Linked DNA regions of Homo sapiens: region 2 is linked to region 1. The links come from fine-mapping of genetic effects on gene expression. A gene starts in region 1. The other region holds a variant in brackets. All regions are shown on one strand. Distances are between the middles of the regions. Region 1 holds the start of METTL22 (methyltransferase 22, Kin17 lysine). Region 2 overlaps METTL22 (methyltransferase 22, Kin17 lysine).

What was found.
Region 2: its variant is fine-mapped to the expression of METTL22 in whole blood (INTERVAL, PIP above 0.99).

Annotation. Positions count from the first base shown.
Region 1 is chr16:8,617,057-8,625,388 of GRCh38, forward strand. It overlaps METTL22 (methyltransferase 22, Kin17 lysine), which reads left to right and starts at 4,642. Exons shown (of 11, transcript NM_024109.4): 1 at 4,642-4,719.
Region 2 is chr16:8,642,281-8,650,612 of GRCh38, forward strand. METTL22 (methyltransferase 22, Kin17 lysine) reads left to right here. Exons shown (of 11, transcript NM_024109.4): 9 at 183-285; 10 at 2,277-2,445; 11 at 3,828-7,374. The coding sequence ends at 3,863. Among named protein-coding and RNA genes, the nearest start is that of METTL22, 25 kb to the left of the region's middle. The variant A/G (reference allele first, on the strand shown) is at 3,840.

The DNA.
Region 1 (8,332 bases):
GGATAACACAGCGAGACCCCATTTCTACTTTTAAAAAATGAAATAAGAAAGAAGATTAAAGGGTGTGTAAAGGAGAGCTACTTGGGCAGATAGTAGGGGTCAACACATGATGGGATGGGCAGGGAAGGGCCAACTGAGCAGATAATATTTAAGCTATGGGTCGGGCACAGTGGCTCATGCCTGTAATCCCAGCACTCTGGGAGGCCAAGGTAGGTGGATCACCTGAGGTCAGGAGTCGGAGACCACCGTGGCCAACATGGCAAAACCCCGTTTCTACTAAAAATACAAAAATTAGCCAGGCGTGGTTGCTGGCGCCTGTAATCCCAGCTACTCGGGAGGCTGAGGCAGGAGAATTGCTTGAATCCAGGAGGCAGAGTTTGCAGTGAGTAAAGATCGCGTCACTGCACTCCAGCCTGGGTGACAGTGAGACTCTGTCTCAAAAAATAAAAATAAAATAAAATAAAAAATAAAAATAATTTAAGCTATGTTGGACGAGAAGGAACCAGTTGTGACGATGGAAACTGGGCTGAGAGTGGGCTTTCTGAGCCAAGGGGAATGCAAATAAAAAGACCAGTAGGCACAAATTAGCTAAAACCTTGTATTAGTCTCTTAACTAAATAAAACTGGGTGACTTTAACCAACAGACCTGCATTCCCGCACAGTTCTGGAGGCCACGAGTCCAAAATCAAAGTAGCAGCATGGCTGGGTCCTTCTGGAGGCTCTGAGGGAGAATCCGTTCCGCGTGTCTGTCCTGACGCATGGAGGCTGCCGGCAATCCTGGGCGATCCTTGGCTCTTACATGCCTCACCCCATTCTCCGCCTGACTCCACATTGTCTTCTTTCTGAGTCCTCTCCTCTTGTGATAAGGACAGCTGTCATTGGACTTAGGGCCTGCCCTAAATCCAGGATGATTTCAAGATCCTTAACTACTTGCATCTACAATGACCCTATTTCTTTTCTTTTTTTTTAATACAGGGTCTCTCTCTGTTGCCCAGGCTGGAGTACAGTGACGCAAACACCACTCACTGTGGCCTCAACCTCCTGGGCTCAAGTAATCCTCCCTCCTCTGCTTCCCAAGTAACTGGGAACATAGTCATGCACGAACATCCCCAGCTGATTTTTTAAAGCTTTTTTGTTTATTTTGCTTTATTCCTTTTTACAGCTGAATAATAATCCCTTGATGCATACACCACATTCTGCCTAGCTTGAGAAAACATATAATTGTGAGGGTTTTTTTATTTTACATAATTGATCTTATACAGTATGAATGGCACTGTAACTTATTTTGTTTTTTGTTTTTCATCTACCAATGTGACGTGGTGAAGTGAGTAAAACTGGTGGGTTCTTTAAAATATAACAGACACTGTCAGATTATCTCAAGAAATGGAAGGGAGTTATTGTCTGGAACTCTCCACGGGTGATATGCCACTCATTCTCACAACACGCCAAGAAAGGTATTATCAGTATTTGAGCCACTAGGAAATTAAGTTTCATAGAAGTAAAGCAATTGCCCAAGTACCAAGGATATGAAAAGCTCTTCAAAATTAGGTAGTGAATGGATGAATATAATTAATCAGTGGCCGAGCTGGGGATTTGAACTCAGCTCTGTGCTCTTGAAGGTCAACCTCCTGCCTCTGCACACAGAACCAGGAACCAGAGCGCAGACTGCTGTGCATTCAAAGCAGCTGCCGTGATATGCTGATGGGAGGCGGGGGCAGAATTATCATCACCCACTTTCAGCAGTCCTGGAGGACAAGCTCTCTCTCCAGGAGGACAAAATTTTCTGGGGCTGACTGGGAAAACACATCAAGCATTTGGTAAATGCACGACCTTTGGAGAAAGGGCTGTTCTGAATAACCCAGCTAATAATAATCACCCGACAGCAATTTCCTGCAAGCTGGTTTCTTAATACACATCTGGCAGTTCATCCGCCTTCCCTCTGCTGCAGACATGGTTTGTCATTAGTCCAGGTGGTGGGAGTGATGGACACTCCAGCGTGTGTGAGCATGCACCTTAACCCTTGCTTCGCCAAGTCTGGGGGAGACTCTCAAAGCAAAAGACCTGCCTGGGACACTAGGGAGGGCATTTAACCCTAAGGCTCCACCCAGCAGACTCACTGGGACATTTTGAAAATGTGAGTCTGAGGCCAAGTGTGGTGGCTCATGCCTGTAATCCCAGCACTTTGGGAGGCCAAGGCGGGCAGATCACGTGAGGTCAGGAGTTTGAGACCAGCCTGGCCAACATGGTGAAACCCCGTCTCTACTAAAAATACAAAAATTAGCTGGATGTGGTGGCACACGCCTGTAATCCCAGCTACTCAGGAGACTGAGGCAGGAGAATTGCTTGATCCAGGGAGGCAGAGGTTGCAGTGAGCTGAGATGGCGTCACTGCACTCCAGCCTGGTCGACAAATGGAGACTCTGTCAAAAAGAAAAAAGAAAAGAAAAGAAAACGTGAGTCTGCGTCTCACTGGCTAGGTAACACTGAGCAAGGCACTTCACCTCTCTGAGCTTCGGAATGGGTGTGAGAATGAAACAAAACCACAAGATGAAGGGGCCAGCAGTGTGCCTTGTTTATAACTGAGGCTCCGGAACTGAGGGCCCCCTCCCGCACTCCCCCAGCTACCATCTCTTTGCAGCCCTGCCAAGAAGGGCTGGCTTTCTTTCCCCTTACCTGGTGACCTATTACTGTGTTGCAAACCACCTCAAAATTTGTGGCAGAAATGATAACCCTTTTGGGGCCATCTGGGCTGCTATAACAGAATACCATACATGGGGTGGCTGATAAACACATTCATTTCTCATGGTTCTAGGGGCTGGAAAGTCCAAAATCAAGGCACTGGCAGATTCTGTGTCCAATTCTTGGTCATAGATGGCTGTCTTTTTGCCGTGTCCTCACATGACAGAAGAAGTGAGGCAGCTCTTTGGGGCCTCTTTTGTAGGGGCACTAATCCCCTATAAAAGATTATAGGTTTGACAAGAGGAGGAATGTGATCTTTTGATTTTTAAGGGTCATTCCCCCGGTTTAAATTTGAAGACAAAACTCCCAAGGGTGTGAACAATGCCTTCCTAGTGCCCTCCCCACCACTCAACATCCTCTGGGGATAACTAAGAGAACCCTCAGCGAACTAGAGAGAAAACTATGAATAGAATCTGGTCCCAAGACACCCAACTGGCTCTCTGTGTACTGTCCTGGGGGATTTCAGGAAACATAATCTGTTTCTTAAAAAAAAAAAAAAAAAAAATTCTTATTTGTGTCGCTTAGTCACCCTATCAACTCTCCACGTTTTATCATCAGTAACCATGAAATTGATGTTGATTTAATTCTATTTTGAAAAGAGAAAAAAAAGTAATTTAGACAAAGGTTGCCAGCTGAGGCCATGTGTGTGCGTGTGTGTATATGTGAACACACAGGGATATAGATTTTACATATGTGGACTTTACATATGTTCCTGTGTGTATATTTGTATGTTCACTGACATGTCTGAGAGTGAGCACCACTGTGTGTGTCTGGGCATGTCTGTGAACACGTCAGTGTGGTGTATATCCCTGGCAGCTCCCCATCTCACGCACAGTAAAATCCAAAGTTCTTAGAATGTCACAAAAGTTCTAACCCTGGCTACCTATGTATCCTCGTTTCCTGCGGCCCATCCCCTGGCTTACTCCATTGTGGCCAGGCTGACTTCCATGATGTCACTGAATATATAGATTGAGAAAAGGGCCAATATTATTGACTGTACTTTTTCTAAAAATGCAGTGACTCAGGCAAGAGACGTGAGAATCTGTGGTCTATCCTGCTCATCCTCTTCAGGGGATTCTTCTGAGGGCTGTGCTCAGTCACGGACTCAGAGGCTTTCTGAAATTCTGCAGGCAAGAAAAAACGAGCAAACATGGAGTCTTATGTTTGCCACTCTGTCTCACCCCCTTGGTGTTGGAAACTTGATGAGCATACGAATTAACGAAATCACTACCACCTAATGAAATCACTACCACCTATTAATAATAACAAGTACTGGCTGGGCGTGGTGGCTCATGCCTGTAATTTATGAGCTTTAGGAGGCCGAAGCAGGAGGACTGCTTGAAGCCAGGAGTTTGAGACCAGCCTGGGCAACACAACAAGATACAGTCTGTACAAAAAAAAAAAAAAATGGTGCCACGCAACTGTAGTCCCAGCTACTAGAGAGGCTGAAACAGGATTCCTTAAGCCCAGGAGTTCAAGGCTGCAGTGAGCTAAAATTGCGCCGCTGCACTCCAGCCTGGGTGACAGAGCAAGACCATCTCAAATAAACAAACAAACAAACAAACGAGTACTAAGAGCATGGATGACGGTAACACCCGTGATAATAAATACAGTAGCATGCTGGTTAAATAGCACCGGCTCTGATCCCACACCCCGGGTTCGAATCCAGGCTTTACCACTTAGTAGCTGGGAGAGTTATTTAACTCCTATTTAAGTCTTTTAGAGGAATGAGTTTAGCCACCTAGGCGGGTCCCCCCAGCAAACACGCCTCGCCCGCGACCAGAGCGAAGGCTACAGGTGCCCGCCGGCAACCCTCGGACGCATGCGCGGCCCGGGCAGGTAGGTGGAGCCACGGTGCGGGGCAGTCGGATGGTCGCACGCGGGGGCGGGGCCGCGCCTGCGCAGACCGCCTGTTATGGCGGCCGCCTAAGTCCCACAGAGACGGGAGTCGGGTGGGATCCCAGGCTGGGCCCCGCGGCGGGTAAGTGCCTGGGAGAGGCGGCGGGATAGGGTAGGGTGCAGGGAACCTCCTGGCGCCGAGCCTGACTTTGAAATCCGAGCTCCCACAGATCGGAGGCCCAGATCCCTAAGGCCCGACCCCACTCTTAGCGTCAGTTTCCCCTTCTCAACACGGGTGTTGGGGAAAGAAGTCCACGTCCTCACCTGGGTTTCCATCCTGGGTCCAGGCACCTCTCCTTCGGTTCTAGATTAGGAAGGGAGGGCAGTGCCCGACCTGTGACTGTTTTTTGAGAGGGCAATAGTTAACCCACAAGGGTGGCGTCAGGAAGGCGACAAGACAAAGAGAACGAGTAGCCCCACGGGGGACGTCCCCGGAGCCCCTCACTACCACTCTACGCACCGTGGCCAGGCCACGTCTTTCCTGCCCCCAGCCTGGGCCTTCACACCCTGCCCTCCCCAGCTCCTGGCCTAAATCGTCATGGGATCGCGCCAAATTATTGATTGTTGAGTGAGTTGCAGTTATCAGAAAGAAAGATGAGGAGGGAAGTTATTTCAACACCGTGATCCCAGCACACTGCTTATTTGGGACAACTGACTGGGGACCTATAGGAGAAGAAAGCTGGTAGCGTCTCAGTCTAGCCCCCACAGCCTTAGAAGAGCCAAGAACACGTTAGCTCCTGCTGCAGGGATGAGCCTGCAGCCCTATGGAGAGGTGGTGGGGCAGGTCCCCATCTGCAACCTGGGTCTCCTTTCTCAGCTCTGCCCAGTAAAGAGAGGAGCCCGAAGCCCATACAGACCCTGCATTTCCGGAAAGAGACTTTTCCTGACTAGAGAAACTGTTACCTTTTTTCTTTCTTCCCAGCATTCACTTTAATCATTATTATATTACTATAATGATAGTATTTACTATTGTTGCTTATTGAACGTTTACTATATGTCGTAAGCCCGAAAAGTGGTAATTGTCTCATATACTCCTCTGAGTATATGAGGGCCTGAGATAGGTTCAAGAGGGCCTCCTTATTCCCAGATAGCTGATTCTAGGGAAAGCCACTTAAAGGGAATCTCCTTCATCTGGAACTTACATTGCAGCGTACATTTCTTGGGAAGCCTGGTTGGGTTGAATTTAAAAATGGAAAATTCAACTAGAGATTAAGAATTTGAGTTTTTTTGTGTGTGTCTATACTTAAAATTTGGTGTGTAATATTATGCTCACTTTTGGAAAAAGCAAAGAACATTGATTTTTCTGGGATGTAAGTTTTCCAACAAAATTGCGCTATAGGCCATGCCTGGTGGCTCACACCTATAATCCCAGCACTTTGGGAGGCCAAGGTAGATGGATCTACCTTGGTCAGGAGTTCAAGACTAGCCTGGCCAACATGGCAAAACCCCATCTTTACTAAAAATACAAAAATTAGGTGGACATTGTGGTGCATGCCTGTAGTCCCAGTTACTCGGGACTCTGAGGTAGGATCACTTGAGCCCAGGAGGCGGAGGTTGTAGTGAGCCGAGATGGCACCACTGCACTCTAGCCTGGGCAACAGAGTGAGACTCTGTCTCAGAAAAAAAAAAAAAAATGCGCTATGGCAAAAAAAGAAATGGCATCCTTTGGTTCACTTTTGATTTTTACAGCAATATTAGAGAGGATCTTCCCCACCCCCTTCAAAAAAAACTGTATGTGAAAGTCCTCAGTTTTCCCCCAGGACATCTCTAAGTCCTGAGAGAGCTTGATCTGCCTTTGAAATGAGTGGTAGGTATAAGCTGTATTTTCTCTTCTGGAATCTGGTGTGGTTTTGCCAGTCCGATTGATTGAGTGTTGGCCTTCAGGTCCAGCATTTCTCCATCACTTTCAATGACACCATGAAATTCTGCATTGATTTGCCAGATTCACAGACTTTCTTTACAACCCACTTGCATTTTGATGGCTTTATGGTGTTGAGTAGGAAAGCTAGCATGGAGATGAATAAGGAATCATCTTTTTCTTAAAAATTTTTTTGTTGGGACAGCTTTTGCTGCCCCACAGCAACCACTTAAATGTAGGAACTCCAGCAGTGTACTGGGATCATTAGGACAGCCTGAGTCATGATGACCTCATTTTGCAGTTGAAGAAGTGGGGGCCCTGAAGATTTCATGACATCTACCCAGGTAGGAACAGCTCCTATAGGCAGTCAGGGGTTACAGGCAGGTTTGGGTCAAATACCTGAAACCAACCCCAGGACAAGGAGGTTGCTGGTGTTTTATTAACACCTACTGTGAGCCAAGGACTCTGCTCAGCAGTTTACCCACCCAGTAACACTGCGTGAGATTGTGGCTGAAGAAACAGATGCAGAGAGGCGAAGTGATTTTCCTGAAATCACATGGCTAGAAGGTGAGAAACCAGGGATCCCCACCTGGTCTGTCCAGCTTCAAAGCCCATCAGACTACTGCTGTTTGATGATGCTTTTTGATTAGGTGAAACGGTTGGAGGGAGGTCCCACCTGTTCTTGACCACTTTGCCTCAGCCATGGTTTTCCAAGTTTTAGTTATTAATGTGTCACCTGCATAATTTTGCCATATCTGTGTATCACCAGTGTAGTGACTCCCTTACTACTTTTCCTTTAAATCCACTCACTCTTTTTTTTTTTTTTTTAATTTCTTTTTGAGACAGGGTCTTGCTCTGCCACCCAGCCTGGAGTGCAGAGTGCAGTGACGCATTCTCAGCTCACTGCAACCCCTGCCTTTTGGTGTCAAGCGATCCTCCCACCTCAGCCTCCCAAGTAGCTGGGACTACCAGCGCGCGCCACGACACCCGCCTAATTCCACTCATCTTTTTAAATTCAGTAGCAGAGCTTTAAGCCAGGCATGATGGCTCACGCCTGTAATCCCAGCACTTTAGGAAGCTGATATGGGAGGATGGCTTGAGCCCAAGAATTTGAGACCAGCCTGGGAAACATAGTGAGACCCTTGTCTCTACAAAAAAAAAAAATTTAATGCCAAGTATGGTGGCATAGCTGTAGTCCTAACTATGAAGGAGGTTGAGGCAGGAGGATCGCGTGAAGTTTGAGGCTGCAGTGAGCCATGATTGTACCACTGCACTCCAGCCTGGGCAACAGAGCAAGCCCCTGTCTGTAAAAAGAAATGTTTAAAAATAAAACATTGTTTAAAATAGGAAAGCTTTATAACAACAAATGATGTGGGGACAGTTGATAACAGCTTCTAGAATAAAAAAGAAAGAGTAAAGGGCCATAACAACTAAATGCAAAGTGCAGATTGTGATTGGATACTGGTTTCTGGGGGAAAAAAAACCTCAAAGACCTTTGGGAGACAGATGGAGGAAATTGACTTTAATGCTATTAGGGAATTATTAATTAACTTAGATTTGCTAATGGTCTTATGATTATATAGGGAAATGCTCTTAGGGGACAGACATTAAATAATTTAGGGGCAAAATGTCATGATGTCTACAATGTACTCTCAGCTCAAGGAGAAGAAACCAGAGAGGGCAGGCACGTGTGGCAAAATGGTGAGGATCATTGAATCTAAGCAGTAGTTCTACGGTTATGATATTCCCCTGTATCCTTACTGTTTGAAATTTTTTTGTAATAAGTTGAAAAAAAAGGGAAAGGAAACTTTATAAATGGAAATTCATATCCCTTTCT
Region 2 (8,332 bases), 25 kb after region 1:
CCCCGGGAGTTCAGTTTTAGAAGTGACTTTCTGGTACATGCCACCACATCTGCAGTTTTAATTCTGGAAGCTGCTGCTGTTCCGTGGTGATAAGCATTCTCTCTGTGCGGATTGCTCTGAAAAGTCGATTTCTGTAATATTTGCGTGTTTTCCTCTAATGCTGGCCTTTTTGCTTCCCACAGTGTTTTACGACGACGACTTGACTGATGCTGTGTTTAAAACGCTCTCCCGACTCGCCCACAGATTGAAAAATGCCTGCACAGCCATACTGTCGGTGGAGAAGAGGTGAGCTTTGCGCCACGGGAACCGTGCTGACGTCCCGAGTGTCAGCGGAACTCTCACCTCCTAATTGTGTCCTTGTCAGTGTCATTATGATTGTTACTCAGTGCCACTTATTGAGCACCTACTATGTGCCAGGTCTGTGCTCATCCTTTGTGTACGTTACTGCACTGAATCTGCATCCTAGCCCTGTGTGCAGGCGCTGCTGTCCCACTTGACTGATGAAGAGAGGAAGGCTGGGAAGCATCAGGGGCCTTGGCCAGGGCACGGCTAGTTAGTGATAGACAAGGACTTGAATGCAGACTGTACTGGAACCTCAACGCTTGGCCAGCACACACTGTTGAGAGCTTCTCTTCCTGAATGTTCTCTCTGTGGTGCCGTCTGTCTCTTCAGCTCCCCCAGGTCTCTTTCTCTTGCTGAATCGGACAGCTCCTCACCCAACAGCCTCACCCAGACATTTCCACTAGAATATCCTGAAATGTTAGGTTCCATTTATTGAGTGCCCACCTTGTGATAGCTACACACATTCTCCTGTAATACTTAACAGTAGTCCACAGCTTTTCTGAAGATCGTTCGGAATCCACAGCAAAAGCTGTAAAACGAAACAGACTTCTTCACCCAGCAATTCAGCATCTGGAAATTCACACTCAGGGTTGTGTACAAAGCTGTATGTACTTGCATATTTATTGCAGTGTTACTTATACCAATAATACCGAGGGCTTGCTTTGAGGCACACACTGAGCAATAGCAATGTACAGACCTCATTTGGATCCTGATTTCATAAACTGTAAAGGAAAAACATCAGGACAGTTGGGAAAAGTTGAATACTGAATATTTGATGTTAAAGGGTGATTGTTAAACTTTAGTTGAAGAGGTCTTCATCTTCTTGAGACACACACTGACATTTCCAGCTTCACAGAGGAAATGGGTTGGTGTCTGGCATTTGCTTTTTAATAACTCAGTGAGGGCAGGGGGCCCCGGGAAGAGCCAAGGTGGCAGAGTGGCTGGAAGTGGACAGTGGCTGAAGCTGGTAATGGGTTCATTAGACAGTTTTGTTTTTTTTGTTTTTTTGAGGCAGAGTCTTGCCCTGTCAGCCCAGGCTGGAGTGTGATGGTGCGATCTCGGCTCAGCACAAGCGCCACCTCCCGGGTTCACACCATTCTCCTGTCTCAGCCTCCCAAGTAGCTGGGATTACAGGCATGCGTCACCACACCTGGCTAATTTTTGTATTTTTAGTAGAAACGGGGTTTCACCATGTCGTCCAGGCTGGTCTCAAACTCCTGACCTCAGGTGATCTGCCCTCCTCGGCCTCCCACAGTACTGAGATTACAGGTGGGAGCCACCACGCCCAGCATAGACTGTTCTTACTCCTGTTGCATGTCTGGAATTTTTCTTGATAAAAAAATTTGGAAAGAAAAGGGAAAAAGGCAAAGAGCTTTAATTTCAAGTGAAACCATCTTGTAGACTAAGGTTTTGAAAGGCAAGTGGCAGGGTTGGGAGACCTGTTTCTGAAGGTGCTCACTCTCTGAAATCTCTCAGACCCCAGCTTCCCAGCAGTTTTCTCTCTGTTCTCTGTGCTCCCGGAGTCCTCTGCACCGCCCCCTGCCACTGCCTCTCATTCATTCATTTCTCAGATAGTTATGCGCAGCTCCAGGCACCAGATTCTGTGCTGGGTGCAGGCAGGACCTGGAGGGCGTCCTCAAGTGTTGATCTGCAGGACTGTCTTGATCTTTCCAGCAGTGTCATTGTGGGCACGTGACCTGAGCTTTCTGAGCCTGTTTCCACATCTGTAAAGTGCTATCCACTTCCACCTCCTGGGCTGTCGTGCAGATGTAGGAAGGAATTGCACTCACACACTCAGCATGAGACAGGCGCTCAGTAAAAGCCCGTCCAGGGGATATGAGATCAGTGAGGGATAGGAAAGCAAGGTGGGCAGAAACAGCAAAACCCTTCCCATTGATGATGGCAGTTTGTGCGTCCGACTGGCTGGTTTGCAGGCTCAACTTCACATTGAGACACTTGGACGTCACATGTGAAGCCTACGATCACTTCCGCTCCTGCCTGCACGCGCTGGAGCAGCTCGCAGATGGCAAGCTGCGCTTCGTGGTGGAGCCCGTGGAGGCCTCCTTCCCACAGCTCCTGGTTTACGAGCGCCTCCAGCAACTGGTAGGTCCAGGCCCCGAAGCAGGGCCGTTGGTTGCTTTACTGTGAAGCGGGTGACTCCAGGGCAAAGAGGTGATGAAGCAAGCCCTCCAAGCACAGGCTCCACCCTAGTCCTGCAGGGGGTGAAGCCTGCGTGCCTGGCACCATCTGTAGTGGAACCTGTTGGGGGAGCTACATCCTGTTCTTAGCAGCCACCATGTCTGGAGACGGGCCTACAGGCGAACCTTGTCTTTTACTTTATAGCACATATTCCCCCCGTTGGACAGTTCAGACTCCAGAGGAGGCAAGACCGAGGCAGAGGTTGTTTGGGGAACAGGAAGTCAGTGGAGGGAAGTTTGTGGGTTGCAGATCTTGGTGCAGGCGCCCCGCTGTGGTGGCCGCTGCTCACATCTTCACTGTGGAAGGATACCAGCCCCTCTCGGACTGAACTGGCTTTTCTATTAACTGGAGTCCAAAGATTGAGAATTAACTTCTTTTGTTCTGTTTGCCTTTTGGCTGTGGCCTCCCTTTCTCTATGTCTGTGGAGACCCGGGCCTAGTTCTAAGGAAAAAGGGAGGAAGAGGGAGTCACGAGGAGCTGCCGCCCTTGCACTCTGTCTCGCGTCCTGAGGGAGGGCAGCATGGAATTCGTGTGGTTTTGTGTGCGAGGAGGATCTTGTATTTATTGCTCTGCCACTTCTGGGCAGCATTAAGAGTAGCGTCACATGACCAAGAACACACATTTCTTACAAGTCAGCAGCCCCAATACATGATGCCTAAGACGTCCCAAAAAGGCCAGGTACGGTGGCTCCCACCTGTAATCCCAGCACTCTGGGAGGCCATGGTCGGAGGGTTGCTTGAAGCTAGGAGTTCGAGACCAGCCTGGGCATCACAGACCCTATCTCGACAAAAATCAAGAAAAAAAATTAGCCATGCATGGTGGTGCACACCTGTGGTCCCAGCTACTCTGGAAGCTGAGGTGGGAGGATTGCTTGAGCCCAGAAGTTCAAGGCTGCAGCAAGCTGTGATGGTGCCACTGCACTCCAGACTGGGCAACAGAATGAGATCCTGTCTCTAAAATAAAATTGTTTATAAAGATCTCCCCCAAAATGGAGAGATACGGCAACTCACTGCTATTCTGGTCTCTTCTGATTGTTTGACATCCTCTGATGCACCTTCCGTTAATGCTGGGACTTCATCCATCCAGCCTCTCTGCCACAGTAAAATAGAACAGCCCAGAGCAACAAAGAAAGGAGGAAGCCGCCCGTCCGCTCCTGCCCCAGCTCGCCTGCTCCGTGGCTGACGTGTTGTCTAACTACTCTCCTTGGTGAATCACTTTCCTTAATGAAATTGTGATGCTCTTGTATGTGCACTTCAGAAACCTGTTCTTTTCTCTGTTTGCTGCAGGAGCTCTGGAAG[A/G]TCATCGCAGAACCAGTAACATGACCCATCGCCTCCACAAGGCGCGGCGTCTCGACTGTTCTTAGAGTGTATTTCTAGTAAAATCAGAAGCTCACCAAAGCAACATGCTTGAGATTTTGTCATTTTAAAAATATGGTTACACGTACCTTAGATGACCCAAGATGGTTTTCTGGGGTCTGTCCCTGCCTCCCAGTTGTAGCCAGAGAAGGTTGTTGCTGTGGGCTGGAGGTCACTTTAGTTGCCTGTTTCTCATGGTTGTGATGTGTGCTCCAGGGTCAAGCCGAGCCACGTTCCTTCTCAGCTCAGTTCCACCCACGTCAGTCATTTCAGCTGTGTGCTTTACTTGCGGTTGCGGCCCTGGCTGTGAGGTGGATTCTTGTACTGCCCTCTGTCAGCTGTTTACAGATGGGTTGACTACCACTGCCAGTATTGCCATCATATTGCCGCTCGGCACAAAAGCCTCATTTCCTCCCAGGGTTGGGTATGCTCCACCCCATCACTCTGGTGAGGGCCCCATGAGAAGGAAGAGGCAGGAGCTGGCGCCAGGAATGGACTGGCATTGGCCTTTGTATTTAATTTTAACTCTTTATCACCCAAATCAGGTACGTTTGGAATAAACCTAAGAGCCACTCTTTGGGGTCATGTGCAGCTGACCAGGGTTTGTGCAGTGATCTTCCTCAGAGGTGTTCCCTTCCGCCTGGACTCATTTTCCCTCCGCCCCTTGGTCTCTCTGTCTTATCACGTGTGTACATGTCTGTCTGTCTGGTTTTTTATCTTCTCCATCTGTGCCTCTCTCCTCCCATCTCCACCCCTTCCTGTCATCCTCTATGTCCCACTGTCTCTCTCCTTCTCTCCAGTTTTGGTCCCATCTTCCTGCTACCCTTGGCCCTCCCTGCAGCCCCTTTCCCCTGCCTTGCTGCTGCCGCACACTTTGCACCAGGGCCTTTCATGGCCCCTTTCCGCCTCCCTTGCAGCTCAGGTTTCCTGGCTTCTCCATGCACTGTCCCTGCCCACACTCGCTTCTCCCCAAGCTCCCAGGTTCCATCCCTAGGCCCATCATACCCCTGGCATTGGCTAATCCCTCATGCCAGGGGCCAGGCACTTGCAAGTCTAACTTCATCTTCCCAACAAATTTAGGAGGTCCGCAGCCTTGTGATACCCACATTACAGCGGAGAAGACTGAGGTCCAAAAAGGAAAAAGTCTCCATGAGGTCAGGGACCTTGTTTGTCTTAAATATCACTACATCCCTGCTGTATGGTCTGGCAAACAGTAGATGCTCAACACATATTGTTGAATGAATTGCTAATGTAAGTTACTAATTAGGTCATTATTTCCTATTTGTGAGTGATTTTGCCTCCAGGAACATTTGGCAGTGCCTGGAGACATTTTCGGTGGTCACAAGTAGGGGAGACGGGTGCCACCAGTATCCAGTGGGTGAGGCCAGAGATGCTGCTGAACGTTCTATAATGCGGTAATCACGGAGCATCCCCCACAACACAAAATGATCCAGCCCAAAATGTGAGTAGCGCCGAGGCGGAGAAATCCTGACTTGGAAGAAGAAAGCCAAGTACTTTAGAGAAGAAAAACGGTCTCAGCTGAACCTGTAGTGAGAGCATGCAGGAGAGTGACCTCACCCTGCCCCTCTGGGAGCAAGAAGAAAACCTATGCATGTACGTTATTATAAATCTTCAAAGAACCTAAAAGGCAGAAGTGATCCCTATTTTGCACATGAGAAATCCAAAATTCAGAGAGGTTCAGCAACTTGCCCAACATCACACAGCAACCAAGGGCAGAGTCAGGTTTAGAGCCCATGTCCACCCATGTCCATCTGACTCCTGAGCCTGTGCTTTTCCCACATTCCCGCTGGAGCAGCAGCAGCATCTGTGGCATCACGTGGATGCTGGTTAGAAATGCAACATCAGGCTGAGCATGTTGGCTCACTCCTGCAATCCCGATACTTTGGGAGGCCAAGGCAGGAGGATCAATTAAGGCCAGGAGTTCAACCAGCCTGGACAACAAAGCAAGACCCCATCTCTATTAAAAATTAAACAGCCAATTAGTCTGGCATGGTGGTTTGCGCCTGCAGTCCCAGCTACTTGGGAGGCCGAGGCAGGAGAATCGCTTGAACCTGGGAGGCGAAGGTTGCAGTGAGCCAAGATCGCAACACTGCCCTCCAGCCTGGGCAACAGAGCCAGACATCTCAAAAATTAAAAAGCCAGGCGAGGTGCCGGGCATGGTGGCTCATGCCTGTCATCCCAGCACTTTGGGAGGCCGAGGCGGGTGGATCACCCAAAGTCAGGAGTTCAAGACCAGCCTGGCCAACATGGTGAAACCCTGCCTCTACTAAAAATACAAAATTAGCCGGGTGTGGTGGCTCATGCCTGTAATCCCAGCTACTTGGGAGGCTGAGGCAGGAGAATCACTTGAACCCAGGAGGCAGAGGTTGCAGTGAGCCAAGACCATGCCATTGCACTCTAGCCTGGGCAACAAGAGCAAAACTCCATCTCAAAAAAAAAAAAAAGCCAGGCGTAGTGGCTAACGCCTGTAGTCCCAACTACTCAGAAGGCAAGGTGAGAGGATTGCTTGAGCCTAAGAATTTGAGGCTGCAGTGAGCCATGACTGCACCATTGCACTCTGGCCTGGGCAACAGAGAGAGATCCTGTCTCCAAAAAAGAAGAAAAGTATCAAGCCTCAGCTCAGGACGTGATTCCGAATCTGCATCTCAACGAGACCCTGGGTGATTTGTGTGCACAGTAGTTTGAGAAGCTCTGGGGCCTACCACATAGCCCTCAACCTATTGCTGTTTTCTAAAATTCCTACACAAACTCCGTTCCTGACAGACTTGCCATAATGGAGCAGCATTGCAGATCACTACAGGGAATATTAATAATGAGTCTTCAAATCAGAACCCCACTAGACAGAGCCAACAACTGGCAGTACGTCAGCACTAATGGTGACAATTTCCTAGCACTCCTGGGTACAAGTCCATAAATGTAATTGGCACCAAGCAATAGAGTTGTCACAGCTTTCACCTGCCGCATTAGGGCAAACTGCTTTTATGTCTAAACCACTGGGCCTGAAAGCTTCCTCTAAGTAGAGCCTGGAATTAATCTTGATCCACTGTAATTCAAAGTATCGTCAGATTTTCATTTCCCAGAGTGGGAGCGCGCCCCCATTGCCATGTTTTATGGCCTTGTTTGAGCCTCTACAAGTGCTTGTTTGGCAGCGATATTCAGAATCACCAAACCATGGGGATGTTCTGCTAGGTAATTAGCCCAGGCCAGTGGACTCAATTTTTTTATAACATTTTCAGAAAAATATGTGACCCAAGGAGGGGACTTGGCTGTTCAGCTGCAGCCTGCATGGGAAAGAACTGTTAAAACCAACAAAGCCAGGCACAGTGGCTCACACCTGTAATTCCAGCATTTTGGGAGGCCGAGGTGGGTGGATCACCTAAGGTCAGGAGTTCGAGACCAGCCTGGCCAACATGGTGAAACCCCGTCTCTACTAAAAATACAAAAAAAAAAAAAAAAATTAGCTGGGCGTGGTGGCGGTCGCCTGTAATCCCAGCTACTTAGGAGGCTGAGGCAGGAGAATCTCTACAACCCGGGAGGTGGAGGTTGCAGTGAGCCAAGACTGCGCCATTGCACTCTACCCTGGGCAACAAGAATGAAACTCCGTCTCAAAAGAAATTAAAAAAAAAAAACCATTAGTGAAACTGTGGTCCCCAAAGCTTCTCAAACTAGTATGCACACGAATCACTTGGGATCTTGTCAAAATACAGATTCTGACTCAGGCCCTGGATGTGGCCTGATGCTGCAGTTTAACAAGCTCCCGGGTGATGCTGATGATGCTCGTCTGTGGGCCACACTGTGAGGAGTGAAGTTGCAACATGTCATCCCTGGTTAAGAGCACAAACTCTGGGTTGGATGTGGTGGCTCATACCTGTGATCCCAGCACTTTGGGAGGCAAAGGCAGGAGGATTACTTGAGGACAGGAGTTTGAGATCAGCCTGGGCAACATACAGAGACCCTATCTCTAAAAAACTTTTTTTTAATTAGCCAGGTGTGTCATGCACCTGTACTCCCAGCTACTCAGGAGGCTGGGTCGGGAGCATCGCCTAAGCGAAGGAATTCTAGGCTGCAGTGAACTGTGATTGTGCCACTGCACTACACCCTCACAGCCTTACAGACAGAGACGCTATTTCTAAAGAAAAAAAAACCCACCAACTCCGGAGTTGAGCAAGCCAGGGTTTAAATCCTGCCTCTGCTGTGTAACAGCAATGACCTTGGACAAATGACCTAGCCTCTCTGAACCTGAGTTTCCTCACCTGTAAAATAGTAAAACTTCTTGATAGGTTGGTGAATGGGTACAAACTTAGGGAAGAAATACCTTCTAATGTTTGGTAGCAGACTAGGGTGGCTACAGTTAGCAACAATATATTGTGTATTTCAAAGTTGCTAGAAGAGAGAACTTGAAATGTTCCCAACAC